4 separate regions of the Homo sapiens genome follow, and all the other regions are linked to region 2. The links come from fine-mapping of genetic effects on gene expression. A gene starts in region 2. Each other region holds a variant in brackets. All regions are shown on one strand. Distances are between the middles of the regions.

The links. PIP is the estimated chance that this variant, and not a neighbour inherited with it, causes the effect. A credible set is the group of variants that fine-mapping cannot tell apart.
Region 1: its variant is the best candidate, but not a certain one, in a credible set for the expression of TBC1D9B in T cells (TOPMed, PIP 0.86).
Region 3: its variant is the best candidate, but not a certain one, in a credible set for the expression of TBC1D9B in monocytes (Quach 2016, PIP 0.51).
Region 4: its variant is the best candidate, but not a certain one, in a credible set for the expression of TBC1D9B in whole blood (TOPMed, PIP 0.62).

The regions. Positions count from the first base shown.
Region 1 is chr5:179,861,273-179,865,487 of GRCh38, forward strand. It overlaps TBC1D9B (TBC1 domain family member 9B), which reads right to left. Exons shown (of 21, transcript NM_015043.4): 20 at 3,982-4,088; 21 at 799-2,856. The coding sequence ends at 2,176. It overlaps MRNIP-DT (MRNIP divergent transcript), which reads left to right. Exons shown (of 2, transcript NR_134283.1): 2 at 1-11. Among named protein-coding and RNA genes, the nearest start is that of MRNIP-DT, 4.4 kb to the left of the region's middle. The variant T/G (reference allele first, on the strand shown) is at 2,573.
Region 2 is chr5:179,905,651-179,909,865 of GRCh38, forward strand. TBC1D9B (TBC1 domain family member 9B) reads right to left here and starts at 2,247. Exons shown (of 21, transcript NM_015043.4): 1 at 2,054-2,247. The coding sequence starts at 2,171. RefSeq lists an enhancer at 1,201-1,978 and silencers at 1,859-1,908, 1,959-2,098, 2,109-2,168, 2,239-2,398.
Region 3 is chr5:179,927,804-179,931,803 of GRCh38, forward strand. It overlaps a transcript of RNF130 not described here. Among named protein-coding and RNA genes, the nearest start is that of TBC1D9B, 22 kb to the left of the region's middle. The variant G/C (reference allele first, on the strand shown) is at 1,658.
Region 4 is chr5:179,882,175-179,886,389 of GRCh38, forward strand. All of the region lies in intron 7 of TBC1D9B (TBC1 domain family member 9B), which reads right to left. Among named protein-coding and RNA genes, the nearest start is that of TBC1D9B, 24 kb to the right of the region's middle. The variant T/TA (reference allele first, on the strand shown) is at 2,004.

The DNA of each region.
Region 1 (4,215 bases), 44 kb before region 2:
ATTTATCCAAATTCCAAGTTATTCAAATCTAATTGAATATAATCAGTGTAAGACTTAAAATTGCCAAATATGTGGGGTTATTATATCTTAATTATATTAAGGCCAACAATGGTCTTTTTGGTATAAATCATTTGAAATTATTTTATGGTACTTTGTGTAAATACTAGAAAGGAAATTGAAGCCAGGCATGCTGGTTCATGCCTGTAGTCCCAGCTACTAGGGAGGCTGGGGCAGGAGGATTACTTCAGGCCAAGAGTTTGAGGCTGCCATGAGCTATGGTCATGCCACAGCACTCCAGTCTGTCTCTAAAACAAACAAACAAGCAGACCGGGCATGGTGGCTCACGCCTGTAATCCCAGCATGTTGGGAGGCCGAGGCGGGTGGATCACGAGGTCAGGAGTTTGAGACCAGCCTGGCCAATATGGTGAAACCCCATCTCTAGTAAAAATAGAAAAATTAGCTGGGCGTGGTGGTGCACGCCTGTAGTCCCAGCTGCTTGGGAGGCTGAGGCAGAAGAATTGCTTGAACCCAGGAGGCAGAGGTTGCAGTGAGCTGAGATCACGCCACTGCACTCCATGCTGGGCAACAGAGCAAGACTTGGTCTCAAAAAACAAAAAAACAAAAAAACAAAAAAACAAAGCTACTTAATTAAAACAAAAACAGCAGCCACAGAGATATACAATAGTACCTGAGTTTCACCTTCTGCAGCTTTAGTTACCCAGAGTCAACAGCCACCTGGAAAAGAGATGAGTACAGTACAAGAAGATATTGTGAGACAGACCACATTTACAACTTTCATTACAGTATAACCGTTACATTTTATTATTAGTTATTGTTGTCAATCTCTTAAGGTGCCTAATTCATAAACTTAATCACAGGTATGTATGCATAGGAAAAAACAGTATGTATAAGGTTTGTTATTATCTGTGGTTTTAGACATCCACTGGGGGTCTGGTTTTAGATATCCACTGTATCCCCTGTGGATAAGGGGGTAACTGCTGTATCTTTTAGTAGAAGCAAGAGCAGCCCCATGTGGGGGCTAACACTGGACACTGGTCAGTTTCAGCTCCTCATGCAAAGTGAGGGTATCCTTGTGGCTCCAGCCCTGGGGCCCCCTGCGGTCACCTTTGGCTCCACAGTCTGGTTCTTGAACCCAAGGGCAGACAGCTTGCTACAGCCCAGGCCTGAGGATGCACTTCCTTCACCAGGACCCACAACCCCTGCCCATGAAGACCTGTGGAGCTCAGGGCATCCCCTGATGCAGGTTGGTCAGGACCTGCCCAGCTTGCACCAGCAGGTTCTGCGTCTCCATCTGACCTGGCAGACCTTGCACTCTTCCACCCACTGTGGAGGACTAAGTGTCTTGAACTTCCAGAACACAGCCAGGGCCCCATACTTGGCCTGGGGAGAAGTTGGGAGGCCTAAGCAGTGGTTGGGGGCCACAGCAAGGCATTGCACACAGTGGTTTTTATTTCTTTCAGGGATTTATTAAGGCATTGAGCACAGTGTAATTTCTAGCCAAGTGAAATGAATCCAAGGAAATATATCAGGACCTGAGGGATGTTTTTTTAAAGTTACTGGAAAGGATGATGAGCTGAGAGCACGTGTACAGCCACGCCTGTGCGCAGCGCCCACTCTGTGCAATAAACATGTTCTGCCCATGTTCCTCAGTCAGGAGGTTCAGGCTCCCGGAGAGCACCTGAGGGTTCCATCACTTTGGTGCCCAACAAGCACATGCCCCCCAACCTGGTGCCAAGAGGCAGGAATGACCCCCATACCACATAGCTGCAGGAAAGCATCCACGGATGGAGGGACTCAGCTGGCCTGGCCGCAGTGTGGAGCACAGAGGTATGAGGCAAGCAAGGGCAGATCTGAGAGCCTGTAATGCTAGGCAGGTGCAGCTGGTGCGAGGCGGGCTCCCACCAGGTGTAAGGAAGGTGGGAGCCACAGCCTCTTCCTGGGCCCAGAAGCAGCCGGCGCCAGGAGATGCAGGCCCAGGGAATCTGTCTAAGGCAGCTGGGTCTGCACCAGCCTTCTTTCCACTCACAACTCACTGCTCCTGGGAGAGCAGGAGGGGCACACCTTTAAAGAGAAACTGATAAGGGAGGAAAGGCAGGAGGAGATGAGGCCAGCCCCACTGATGACACCTTGGGCCAGGCCTCACAGCTGCAGGCATCAGCCGGAAACTCCAGGCTGCTCATGGTCACTGGCGGTGCTGAACTGTCTCTCCACTTTCTTTTGGTCCTTGATCTTGAGTCCAATGTCCACTCTCTTCTCAAAGAAGTTCACCAGCACGGACTCCGTCAGGATGGAGGCCAGGATCTGCTCAAAGGAGATGCACCAGTCGGTGTCGACGGTGCCGCCGATGCGCGCTGTGGGGCTGCAGGCCTCCCCGCCCACCAGCACCGTGTCGTCTGCAAGGTCTTCACATTGCAGGGAGCCCGTGCTGACCACCGAGTAGGAGGACATGGACATGTCGTCTTTGGTTTCATCGTCAGACAGCAGCTGGGAGGGTGAGCCCTGTCCCTCGCCGCTGCCCCCCTCCACCACCACCTGGCTCTCCTGTGGGGCT[T/G]TTCCGAGGTGTGTGTCTCCGCCTGCTTTGGCTTGGGGGTCTCCTGCAGCTGGGGGCTGAAGCTCCCTGGCTGCGTCCTGATGCAGTTCGGGTGCTGGTGGCTCGTCCTCCTCAGTGGCACAGTCCCTGGGCTTCCTGCCTGTGCGGGCTGAGAACTTCTTCCCCACCTCTCCGATGCGGAGCAGGAGGCTGGCCACGGTGGCGATGGCGTGGTACAGGTCCTGCTCCATGGGGTCTTCACTGAACATGTTGTAAAGCGTCTTGCACAGCTCAATGAACTGCTCCTTTTAGGGAGAAAAACAGAAGAACAGGGAGATGGTAAAAGACCAGTCAGACGGGGTCCATATTAGCCAAACTGATGACAAGCACCAGCCTAAGGATGTTGGCTGCCGTCTTGCTAATCATCTCCATGAGCCTCATCAGTCCCATCTCACAGATCAGGACACAGGCTCAGAGAGGCCACACAGCTCTTCAAAAGGCTTTCCCCTCCAGCTGCCTTTCTCTTGGCACTCAGAGCATGCTGGTCTGACCTGGGGCCTCCCTGTTTCTAGGTCCGTTCTGTTGGCACAGGGAGATGGATTTCTACCACGACTCTAAATCCAGTCAGTACAAGGACTTCGTTGTGTTTTAGAATCACCTTTGGTTTTAATCAGAAGCAGCCTCAACTCAGCCCTTGAATGAAGCTCTTTAGAAGGTGATGGTGAGGAAAATACAGCCTGGGTCAGCTGGGGAGGGGGATCCTGGGGAGGGGGGTGCTGGGGAGGGTGGGTGCTAGGTCCTGAAGCCACACGTCTAGGCCTCCTGGCCCAAGAATGGGAAGAATCCTCATCGCACGTGGTGCCCACCCTCCAGGCCTGCTGGGGGAGTGGTCAGATTGCAGGGTCCCCTACTGGGCACAGCTAGACCGTGGGTCTGGCCCGAGGGCCATGGTCAGGCTGGTGCTCCAGACTTGCCTTTGGCTCAACGCTTGCAGTTTGGAGCTGGGGTCTCCCATTTTCTGGCTTTGAGACCCTTGGCAAGACACCATGCTTCTGATCTGCGAGACCAGTGAATGAAGAGCGGGTGTGGAGGATGCATGTGAGCCTGCGTGTGCAGAGCCCTGGGCAGGGCTGGGAGGGTGCAGGGTGTGGAACGCATATCTTGTCAAAGGTAGCCTACAAGCCTCTGGCTCCTGGTTCACAGACACTCACTCAATCTGGAAACATGCCCCTATACAAGGCCCTGGAGCAACTGGCCTCTTGTCTTTCTGGAATCATCGCTGACTGGCAACCAGGACTAACGGGCTCTAGAGGCAGGGAGGAGCCTTCCCACCCACCAGGAGATGCTGCAGTGCAGGTGCGGTGATGTTAGGGCCCAGTCTTGGTCAGAACTCTCCAGAAATGTCTACTGTGGGCTCCAGTGGAGCCTACCTGGTTCATCTTGGGAAGATCCTTAATCGTCTCCTTCTGAGCCTCTTTCTCCTTGGCCCACATTCGAAGGTAGTGCCGATAGTCCGGAGAGCTGGTCCCCTTCTCCTCTGCAGGTTAGGAGGAAAGAGATTAATCTTTGTCATGTGAGACGGCTGCGGGCTGACAGCAGGGAGAGGAAGAGTTGGGTGTTTTCTGGCATGGAGTTACCAGGGCCCTATCATAAAACACCCTGGC
Region 2 (4,215 bases):
CTATTTCCTGACAAATCAGCAGGAAATATATAGCTTTTATCATTGTTTGATTCACTAATTGAATTATCGAGCAATCTAAAAACCTGTTTATTGTTTTTACTTGAAATTTTTTCTTCCTTTTAACGAAGTGCTGCTTTTGGCATGATCTGAAAATATTTTGTTACCATTTTTCCTGTTGATGTCAGAACAATTTTTATTGCTGTTATTCAACTTTAACACTTTTGTTTCATAGTCCATTAATACTTTTTTGAGATAGTCTCGCTCTGTCGCCCAAGGTGGAGTGCAATGGCGCCATCTCGGCTCACTGCAACCTTGACCTCCTGGGTTCAAGCGATTCTCGTGCCTCAGCCTCCCGAGTAGCTGGGATAACAGGCGCGTGCCACCATGCCTGGATAAATTTTATATTTTTAGTAGAGACGGGGTTTTGCCATGTTGGCCAAGCTAGCTATTCAGATTCTTTAATGAAAAGTCTAGGTTGGCATGTTTTTAATAGATGGCTTGGATAAAACCACATCCCTGTCTGCTCCTCTTCAGGGAGGACAGTACTCAGGAGGCCACGATGCCCATGATGGCACAGGGAAGGCCCTGTCAGAGGGCACAGCAGGACACACCAAACCTAGCAGTGGGGAGAGATTGGGAGAGGGTTCAAAGAAGGGTTCCCTTGGGGGGACCCTGGGAGCTCGGTCCCAGGGGACACGGAGAGTGAGGTGGAAAGGAGAAGAGCCCGCAGGAAGGAGGTGTACAGAGACCGGGCTGCACCTGCACCCGCCCGTTCAATGAGACGACCCACATAAGCCTGCCGAGCACAGCACAAGTGTTTCAAGTACACCAGCGAATATGACACACTGGCGCGCTGATGACACCCTGGCGCGCTGGCGGAAGAAAAGGTGCCGGTCCCTCGCTTTCTTCATCGGGCTTGCAGTAGCTTCGAGGTTAGCCACAGGGGCTGCCGACTGAACAGCTGGATCTAGGAGGCGGGTCCAGAACAGGAGCCCGAGATCCTTGAAGCCCACTGGGAGGGAACCCGAAGCTGAAGGGAACACTGAGTGTTTCTGGGAACAGAACAGTCTCTTCCACATGAAGAAACGTGGCCCAGGAGAAGCCTCCGTCTGCATCTGGCTATTAGCTGCTCACACTGAAAATCAGGATGATTCACAGAAAATGCTCTTGATAAACTGGACGACCTGGCAACACTGGGACCGCAATCCTGTAGGGCAACAGTCGGTGCCCCGAAGAGCACAGGCACTGAGCCCGAGCCAGCCGGGCTCCTGCAGTGCTGGGCGCAGGCCCTGGAGCATGAGGGGCCCCGGACACCACCTGCGGAGGGAGTGGCCTGTGGGCCTCCCCTGGATCCCACAGGCCGCACGACTCCAAGGGTGCCTGTCCAGCTTCATCCTGTGTGATGGTGGCACCCGGGCCCACAAAGGGCCACCTTGGCGAGCTTGCAGGAACACCCTGTGCCGCTACCCACAGCCTTGGGTGCGCAGCTCTGAGAGCAGCCAGGAGCAGGAAAGGTGGGGGAGGAGAAGCTGGGGGAATGGGGGTGCGGCCAGCTCCAGGGACCTCTGATCTTGCTAAAAGGGCGATACTTTGGTGAGATGGGCACGAAGAAGAGGGCAAAAGAAAACGTGCGCTGGCGTCACCTGGCCCCTTAGAGGCACCTGGGGAAACTGAGGTGGAGGATGAGGACAGGGCGGTCTCGCCAACTTTCGGCGGTGAGATCCCGGGAAGCTGCACGGCCCCCGGGGCTCGCGGGCGCCGAATCCGGGCAGAAGCCGCCGCCGGTCTCCACTTGGCCGCCCCAAGCCGACCTGAGGAGAGCCCGCCGAGGGCGCATTCGCCTCCCGCCAGCCCCTCGCCTCCCCGCCCCGGCCCCTCCGCGCCCGGCTCCCGGGTCCTGGCCTCGCGCCCCCGCCCCGCCGCGCGCTGGCGTGCGTGTCCGCCGCGACGCGCCGAGGCCGGGCCGGAACCGGACCCGCCCGCCGCCCGCCGCCAGCCCCGCCGCCAGCCCAGCCGCGGCGCCCACAGGCCCGGCCGCCCGCGCGCCTCTCACCCGTAAGGCCGCCGCCCCTGCCGTGGCCCCGGCGTCGCTGCAGCACGAAGAAGGGGTTGGCCCGCTCCGTCACCCACAGCGCATTGGCCACCAGCACCTCCTCCGGGCTCAGCCACATCGCGGAGCCGCTCGCACCGGGCCGAGGCCCGCGAGACGGAAGCGCCCGCCGCCGTCGGCGTCCCGGAGCGGAGCGTGCGGAGCGGAGCGTGCGGAGCGGGCCGGGGCGGGGCGGGGCCGGGCGGGCGGCGCCCCCTGGCGGGCGTGTGGCGCTCCCGCACGCGGCCCGAGTTCCGCGCCGCCCCCTCAGCCCCGGCCTCGGGCGCGCGCCAGCCTGGCCTCCTGGAGCGGTGCAGCCCACGGCCTCCGGCCTGGGTCCAGAACGGAACGGCCCAGTCCGCAGACAGGGGAGCCGCTGTGCAGAGCAGGGCTTCTGGCGTTTTGAAAGCTGTGCAGTGTGAGAGAAGGATGTCAAGAAGCAGAGTTTGGCGGCTTTTGGCTGGTTGCGCGTGCAACCCGGGGCGTGTTAGCACTGCAAAGGGCGCCTGGAAAGGGTTTGCAGTTCCTCCTAATTCTCAGCTTTCTTTTCTTTTTTTTTTTTCGACAGAGTCTTGCTGTGTCGCCCAGGCTGGAGTGCAGTGGCGCAATCTCAGCTCACTGCAACCTCTGCCTCCCGGGTTCAAGTGATTCTCCTGCCCCAGCCTCTTTAGCTGGGATTACAGGCTCCCGCCAACACGCCCGGCTAATTTTTTTGTATTTTTAGTAGAGACGGGGTTTCACCATGTTGGCCAGGCTGGTCTCGAACTCCTGACCTCGGGTGATCCGCCTACATTGGCCTCCCAAGTCCTGGGATTACAGGAGTGAACCATCGCGCCCGGCCAGTTCTCAGAATTCTGACACTGGGGCCGGGAGACTAGAAGAATCTTCCAGCGCAGGGCAGGTGCCAGGAGGCCCTGATACGGGCTGCATCCTTGGAAATCAGTGCTGCCCCTCCCCTGACAGACGGGTCACAGAGGCTGGCCGGCCCTGGGGATGGGGTCTGGACTGGCCCTGGGCCCAGTGGCGGCTTCTGCGCAAGTGTGAGGCTGGCTGCAGGCGAATGCGGGTCCCTGGTCTCCCAGTGTTGGCCTGCAGGGGCAGCGCCAGTCCACACACAGCCTTCTGCATGAGGGGGCTGTCAACTCCACCTGGGACAACGGGCCTGGGGCCTGTCCGGGGTCGACTGGGATGTGGGGTCACCCTGCTGGCTGGAACCCTCACCAGGGTCTGGCTAGAGGGCAAAGGGAAGGGGGCAGTTAAACCATCCTTGGAGCTGGACCTGACTTCCAGGTGGGTTTCTGTGATTGGCACTCAAGAATCTTGGTGCGATGGATGTAGGTACATGCAGTTGACACCCAGAGTGATCTGCAGTCTTCTTCAATGTTGCTGGATATAGGAATCAGCTTTCAAGATGCAGAGGCGGGCTTTCTTCAACACCTTGGAAGTCTGAACTAATATTGTCATTGTGCTCTCTAGAGGGAAAGAATTTGGAAGAACTGCACTTTTTAACACCCTGAGAGGAGGTAAAGAGTCGTCTTGTTCCTTAATCCCAGTGGTTCTCAAATTGGGTATACATTAGGATCACCTGGAAGGCTGATTCAAACAGGCTGCTGTAGTCCCAGCCACTTGGGAGGCTGAGGTGGTAGGATCACTTGAGGCCAGGAGTTCAAAATCGGCCAGGGCAATATAGCAAGACTCCATCTGAAAACAAAACAAAACAAAAAACAGCCACACAGGTTGCTGCCCCCTCCCTCCCAGGGTGTTTGCACTGCTAACTCGTTCCTAGGTGATGTTGATGCTGCTGACCTGGAGACCACTCCTCGAGAATGGTTTTTTATAAGAAGAAAAAGAACAAACATTTATCGATCACTTAGTATGTGCGTGCTAAGCTTACTTCTTTTTGATTTTCTGAGATATAAGTCACATTCCGTAACGTTCACTCTTTTAAAGTGCAAAACGTAGTGGTTTTTAGTATATTCACTAGGCTGGGCATCCATCATCACTAATTCCAGAACATTTTTATCAAGTCAAAAGAAACCCCTTACCCATTAGCTGCCATTCCCCACTTCCCCCCGGCTTTGCCCTGGCAACCATCAATCTATTTTGTCTCTATACATTTTTCCCAT
Region 3 (4,000 bases), 22 kb after region 2:
ATGGTCTCGATCTCCTGACCTCATGATCCACCCGCCTTGGCTTCCCAAAGTGCTGGGATTACAAGTGTGAGCCACCATGCCCGGCCTAGCTTTGTCTATTTTTAATTTTATATAAATGGAAACAGGGAATATATTCTTTTGTGTCTAGACTCTGTCTGACACACAAATGTCTGACATTTATGTTGCAACATCCATCCGCCTCAGGGAATATAGCAACAGTTCCTTCCTTTTCACCGCCGCATCATGTTCCACTGTCTGGCCACCACACAATTGATTGGTCTAATCTTTACGGACAGGCATTTGCATTGTTTCCTCTGGAGGCTCTCTGAATCTTGCTGTTAGGGACACTTGTTTCTGTGAGTTATCTTTTGTACACATGGACATGCCTTTCCCTCGGATGATGCCTGGGAGTGGGATTGCTGGGTCTTAGGTGTGCATATTTTCAGCGTCAGCAGACACTGGCCATGTTCCAAAGTGGCTGTGCCAACTTTGACTCCCACCAGTAAATGAGAATTCCAGTGGCTCTCTTTCTGTGCCAATAATGGATATTTTGTTTTTTTTTTTCATTTTAGCATTCCAGCAGGTGTATACACGGCATTTCACTATGTTTTAACGTCCATTCCCCAAATGACCAAAAAGGATGAACACTTTTCATACATTTGCAGGCTGTTTGTGTATCTGGTTCGCTCTGAAATGTCTCTTTGTTTCTTTTGCTCATTTTCCCATCAGGTTGTCAGTCTTCTTCTCCTTTATTGTGACTGTGAGTCCTTTGTGAGTTAAGCATTGCAGGTACCTTCTTCCAAAACTGTATTTTTTTAATTGTTGTTGTTTTTTTTTTTTTTTGAGACGGAGTCTCGCTCTATCACCCAGGCTGGAGTGCAGTGGTGCGATCTCGGCTCACTGCAAGCCCCGCCTCCTGGGTTCATGCCATTCTCCTGCCTCAGCCTCCCGAGTAGCTGGGACTACAGGCGCCCACCACCACGCCTGGCTAATTTTTTGTATTTTTAGTAGAGACGGGGTTTCAACCGTGTTAGCCAGGATGGTCTCAATCTCCTGATCTCGTGATCCCCCTGCCTCGGCCTCCCAAAGTGCTGGGATTACAGGCGTGAGCCACCGCACCTGGCCATCCAAAACTGTATTTTGATGAGCAAAATTTCTTAATTTTAGTGTGGAACAAATTATCTAACTTTTATTTTATGGTTAGGGCTTTTTCAGTCCAGTTGAAGAAGTCTTTGCCTATCTGAAGGTTTTGATGACATTTTATCTTATTTTTTAGAAGCTTCATGGTTTTACCTTTTGCATTTAGGTCTATCATCCATTTCAAGTCAATTTTTCAGTATAGTGTGAAGTAGGAATTAAGATTCATTTCTTTCTTTATAAATATTCAGTGGAGCCAGCACCATCTTGAAAAGACCATTCTTACCCCACGGCTTGTGCAGTGCCACCTCTGTCATGAGCCAAGTGTCTGTACATGCACGGCTGTTTCAGAACTCTATTTTGTTCTGCTGTCTGTCCATCCTTGCATCGATACCTTACTGTCTTAATTACTGTGGCTTTGTCAAAAGTCTTGATTTCCAGTATCTAAGTCCTTTTGCTTTATTATTCTTCAAAATGTTCTTGTTATTCTTAGCTCTTTCCATTTCCACGTAAATTCTAG[G/C]ATCAGGCTGGGCGTGGTGGCTCACACCTGTAATCTCAGCACTTTAGGAGGCCAAGGTGGGAGGACTGCTTGAGCCCAGGAGTTTGAGACCAGCCTGGGCAACATGGCAAAATCCCATCTCTACAAAAAATACAAAAATTAGCTGGGCATGGGGGTGCATGCCTGTAGTCCCAGCTATTCAGGAGGCTGAGGTGGGAGGATCACTTGAGCCTGGGAGGTCAAGGCTGCAGTGAGCCATGATTGTGCCACTGCACTCCAGCCTGGGTGACAGAGTGAGACTGTGTCTCAAAAAAAAAAAATTCTAGGATCAATTGGTCCAGTTTCAATACACACACCCACACCCACCCACTGGGGTGTGACCGAAATCACAGTAAGTCTATAAGTCACTTTGGGGAGAGCTAACACCTCCATAGTATCGTGTCACTCATTTCAGCCTGTTATATTCACTTAGGTCATCTTTAATTTCTCTCGATAACACATAATTGTTCTCTGTATAAAAGCCTTGCGTATCTTCTCTTACATATATTCCTCAGTATGATGTTTCTTTGATGCTTTTGTAAATGTTATCTTTTTTGAAAATTTCATTTTATTTATTTATCTTTTATTTATTTTTTGAGATGGAGTCTTACTCTTGTCGCCCAGGCTAGAGTGCAATGGCGTGATCTTGGCTCACTGCGACCTCTGCCCCCCGGGTTCAAGCGATTCTCCTGCCTCAGCCTCCCGAGTAGCTGGGATTACAGGCATCTGCCACCACACCCGGCTAATTTTTGTATTTTTAGTAGAGATGGGGTTTCACCACGTTGGTCAGGCTGATCTCGAACTCCTGACCTCGTGATCTGCCCGCCTTGGCCTCCCAGAGTGCTAGGATTACAGGCATGAGCCACTGCACCCGGCCAAAAATTTCATTTTAAATTGCTTATTGTTAGTCTATAGAAATATAATTGATCCTGTTAAATTTACTTACTCATTTTAAGAGCTGATTTGTAGAATATATTGAATTTTCTACATGTAATCGTTTTCTCTGTGAAGAGTGACAGTTTCATTCTTCCTTTCTAATCCTTACACCTTTTATTTCTTTTTCTTGCCATATGGTAATGGCTAACACTGCCAATATAATGTTGAAAGAGACAGTGACAGCAGATAACCTTATTTACAATCTTAGGGAAAAAGTTTTTAATATTTCACTGATAAGTATAATGTTTGCTGTAGTTTTGAAAATATCCATTATTAGATTAAGGAAGCACTCTGTTTTTCCTAGTTTGCTAAAAGTTCTTTTCTTTTAAAATCAAGAATGGAGGCTGGGCGTGGTGGCTCATGCCTGTAATCCCAGCACTTTGGGAGGCCAAGGTGGGTGGATCACTTGAGGCCAGGAGTTCAAGACCAGCCCAGTAAACATAACAAAACCCGGTCTCTACTAAAATTACAAAAAAAAGTAGCTGGGCGTGGTGATGCATGACTGTAGTTCCAGCTACTGGGGAGGCTGAGGCATGAGAACCCAGGAGGCAGAGGTTGCAGTGAGCTGAGATTGCACCACTGCTCTCCAGCCTGGGCTGCAGACCAAACCTCTGTCTCAAAAAAAAAAAAAAAAAAAAAAAAATCAAGAATAGGTGTTGAATTTTAGCAAATGCTTTTTTTGTACCTATTAAGATAAAAACATGGTGACCGCATGACTGATTGGCATTTTGATGACGTCCACGCAAAGCTGGATTCCTGTGACAGTGTTTCCCGCCTGAAGTACCGCACATCTGAACTGGGACTGTAACACTGATGGCGATACAGTGTGGGGTGCCAGAAATGTCAAAATGAATCACACAAAGTCCATTTTGTTTACCTATTGTATCAAAGGGGAGTCTAGGGACAATGGTAGTATTTGTTTTTAATCAGCTGTGAAAACATATTACAGTTCTGCACATTTTCTGTGTTCTTTTGTGTGTGTGCTTTAAGTGTAGCTTTTTTGTTTTTTGTTTTTTTTCTTTTTTGTTGGCAGTAACAGATTTTAATGAATCACTGTTTAAACTACAGTACAGGCCAGGCGCAGTGGCTCATGCCTGTAATCCCAGCACTTTGGGGGGCCGAGGTGGGCGGATCACCTGAGGTCAGGAGTTCGGGACCAGCCTGGCCAAAATAGTGAAACTATGTCTCTACTAAAATAGAAAAAATTAGCCGGGCGTGGTGGTGCCTGCCTGTAATCCCAATCCCAGCTACTCGGGAGGCTGAGGCAGGAGAATTGCTTGAACCTGGGAGGCGGAGGTTGCAGTGAGCTGAGATGGTGCCACTGCACTCCAGCCTGGGCGACAGAGCCAGACTCTGTCTTAAAACAAACAAACAACAAAACTACAGTAC
Region 4 (4,215 bases), 23 kb before region 2:
CTTCAGGTGACCCGCCTGCCTCGGCCTCCCAAAGTGTTGGGATTACAGGCATGAGCCATCAAGCCCAGCCTCATATACCTCCCTAACCTCAGGTTTTGATTGTACTATGTCTCCATCATCAGAGATTATAACATTTATATACTGTCACCTCTATTCCTACTATCTAACCTTAATTCCACAGCTAAATATAATCAATGCTACCACCAGTCGTTAGGCCCAAGCTGCTTCCATCACTCCTTGGTTATCTGGAGTCTGTTCTCCAGCAGACTCCACAGAAGCTGAGAGAGCCCCTGAACTCCTCTGCATGTTCTTTACAGCCTATGGTCTTTATACCTGAACGTCAGTTTGGCTGGGTATAAAATCCCTGGGTCACAGCTTCTTTTATTGTATATCTTAAAAATGTTACTCTGTATAATCTCAGCACTCTGGGAGGCTGAGGCAGGTGGATCACCCTAGGTCAGGAGTTCGAGATCAGTCTGGCCAACATGGTGAAATCTCAACCCCATCTCTACAAAAAATACAAAAATTAGCCAGGCATGGTGGCACATACACGTAGTCCCAGCTACTCACGGGCCTGAGGCACAAGACTGCTTGAACCTGGGAGGCAGAGGTTGCAGTGAGCCGAGATTGTGCCACTGCACTCCAGGAGACACCCTCCCCAACCCCCAACAAAAAGTTACTCTAAAATGTTGTTACTGTATCACAAAGTCTGATACCTCTCTTGAGGAGGAATCTCTCAGGATCGTGGCCCATTGCAACCTCCTTCTCCCACCTCCTGGGTTCAAGTGATTCTTGTGCCTCAGCCTCCCAAGTAGCTGTGATTCCAGGCATGTGCCACTATACCTAGCTTAGTTTTGTATTTTTAGTAGAGACAGAGTTTCACCATGTTGGCCAGGCTGGTTTTGAACTTCTGGCCTCAAGTGATCTGCCTGCTTCAGCCTCCCAAAGTGCTGGGATTACAGGTGTGAGCCACTGTGCCCAGCCTGGAATAATTTTTTAATCTTTAAAATTGAACAGTTTTATGAGATTTTATGTCAATATCGACTATTTTGTGTTGATTTTTCTAGACATTCAATGTGTCCTTCCACTATACAAGTTCAAGCTTATTTTATCAGTTTTCCTGAATCACAGTTTCTATTATCTGTTATTCCACTGCTTTTTTCTGGGAAGGGTGTGGGATGGCACTACGATTATACGTAAGTTTGATCTTCTTTGCCTAACTTCTTTATCCCTTCTCTGGACAACTTCTTCTCTATTTGTTTGAGTCTCCTCTGACTCCATTTTTCTCCTATCTCTTCCTTATTTACCTTAATGTATTTTCATTCTTGTGTTCCTGATTTTCATTTCAGAAATATCTGGTTTTTTTTTTCTTATTTCCTCCTGAGTCCTGTCAACTCTCTTCATATTTTTCTGTTGACTAGTCACTTTTAACCTGAGCTTTTTAAACATTTTTAATTTATACCATTCTTTAGTAGTTTCTGTCGTTTTTCTAATTCCTTTGAGATCACTCAGAAACATCAGGACACAGTTTTCATCTGCCTGGAGGAATGTTTTTCTGGTGTGCTTTCATTATCTGTGGGAGGTTATCTGGTTCACTTTCTCCCCGCAATATCTTTGTACAGGGTGTGATCAGCATCTTTTCCTGTTCTTTCAGCAGGATGTTCTACGTACGGGCAGTTGTGGGTCAGAGTAGCTTTCTGAACTCCACAGCTGGAGAGGCCTTTCCCCTGCTGTGGTCGGTCTGTGTAGTCCTTGCTCCTGTACTTTCTGGGATTGGCCACCTCTTTCTTGTATCTAAAGCTTTTCTCCTTTACCCCAAGTGTTCCTGCTCTGTTCAATCCCAGTCCTTTTTTTCTTGGGGTGAGCTCTTGTCTTTCAGAAGAGAAGTTTTTGTTAAGGGCATGGGTTTCCCTCACATTCTTGATCTTTCCTCAGCCGTATAATACGTCAGGCAGCGATAAGGCTGTGGGTAGAAATAAAGCAGGATTTTGTGCTTCCATTAA[T/TA]AAAAAAAAGCCTCCTCTATAAACTGGAGCCTGAGAAATCGGCTCCCAATTTCACTGGCTGTCTCTCAGATTCACTTGTTGAGGTTTCCATTTGCTGAGTAGTCTCTTGTGAGGGGTATTCTGGTGACTTCTGGATTCCTTGGCTCTTAGGACTATCAGAGCCCCTCTTCCTTCCCGCCATTGCCTCAGCACAGCTACTGGCTCTGTGTCTGCACAGAGTCATGCCACAGTTGGTGGTCTGGCCTCCAACTGTGGTGCACAGTTGGTGGATAGAGCATAGCACGGAGGTTCCTTGAAATATTAAAAATAGAACTGCTATACAATCCAGCAATTCCACTCCAGGGTATGTCCCCAAAAGAACTGAAAGTAAAGATTCAAACAGACATCTGTACACCCATGTTCACAGCAGTGTTACTCATAATAGCCATGAGGTGGAAGCAGTCCAAGTTTCAACAGTGAACAAAACGTGGCTTATCCATACAATGGCATATGATTCAGCCTTAAAAAAGAAATCTTGAGCACGCTACAACAGGGATGAACCTGGAGGACATCACGCTGAATGAAATAAGCCAGGCACAAAAGGGAAAATACTATATGCTTCCACTTATGTGCATTACCTAGAATAGTTCAATTCAAGTCAAAAAGGTAGAATGGTGCTTGCCAGGGGCTGGGGGAGTGGGGGCTGAGGAGTTACTGTTTAATGGGTTCAGAGTTTCAGTTTTGCAAAACTGAAAAAGTTCTGTGGATGGATGGTGGTGATGGCATAGCAATGTCAATGTACTTAATGGTAAATGTTGTTATGTGTATTTTATCACAATAGCGTCTCCTGAATCTGACCCCTTCTTACACCTACACTGTTCCTACCCTTGATGCTCGACTCCATCATCTTGTGCCCCTGCTTCTGTGATGGGCTCCAGCCGGCCTCCTTGCTTCTATTCTTGCCACTCTCTAGTCCAGCACTGCCCAAGAGAGATGATGAGAGCCACAAATGTAATTGTAAATTTTCTAGTAGCCACATTGTAAAGTCCTAAAGTAAATTATTGAGATTAATTTTAACAATATATTTGACTTAATCCAATATATCCAAAATACTCGCATTTCAACAGGAATCAATTAAAAAATGATGGAGTGGCCAGGCACGGTGGCTCACCCCTGTAATCCCAGCACTTTGGGAGGCTGAGGCAGGTGGATCGCCTGAGGTCAGGAGTTCAAGACCAGACTGGCCAACATGGCAAAAACCCGTCTCTACTAAAAATACAAAATAAGCCGGGCGTGGTGGTGGACGCCTGTAATCCCAGCTACTCGGGAGGCTGAGGCAGGAGAATCACTTGAACCTGGGAGGCAGAGGATGCAGTGAGCCAAGACTGCCCCACTGCACTCCAGCCTAGGTGACAGAGCAAGACTCTGTCCCCCCCCCAAAAAAAAAAAGATGGAGGTATTTTACGTTTTTCTTTTCATACGAAGTCTCCAAAACCCGTGTACAGTGATCTGAACACTCACAGCACATTTCCATTGGCACCCGCTGGATTTCCAGTGCTCCATGGCCACACGTGGCTGCTGTACTAGACGGGGCACCTCTAATCCACTGTCAACATGGACGGCCACAGTAACCCCATTAACACGTAAACAGGTCGTGCCCTCCTCTGGTCATGACTCTTCACTGGCTTCCCCTCTCACCTGAAGTCAAAGCTGCAGCACTCACAGGGCCTACGGGCTTTCGGTGACTTGGCCTTCTGCCACCTCTCTGGTCTCACCTCCTACACCTGGTCAGTCTCCTAAGCCCTGGTCCCAGAAGCCCGTGCCACATCCAATCCTGTCTCCCAGCTTGCTGTGCTCTCTGCCTCCAACACCCTGCCCCAGACAGGCTATGGCTAGTTCCCCTGCTTCTTTCGAGTTTCTCCTCCAGTGCTGCCTGATCAGAGAGGTTGCCCATGAGCAACAGAGAGAAAATGGAGCCCCCTTCTTTCCCCTGGCACTCCTGATCCCCTCATCCTGCTTTATTTCTACCCACAGCCCTTATCACTGCCTGACATATTGTATGTTTATTTGCTTACTGCCTCCCTCACTGGAATACAGCTCTAAGTGAACAGGCACTCTGTCCGATGTGTTCACTGTTCTACTCCTGGGGCCTAGAATAGCAGCTGGCACCTAACAGGAATGCAATAAAATGTGTTTGGATGCATGAAGCCGAGTGCCTGGGAGGGGCCGTGAG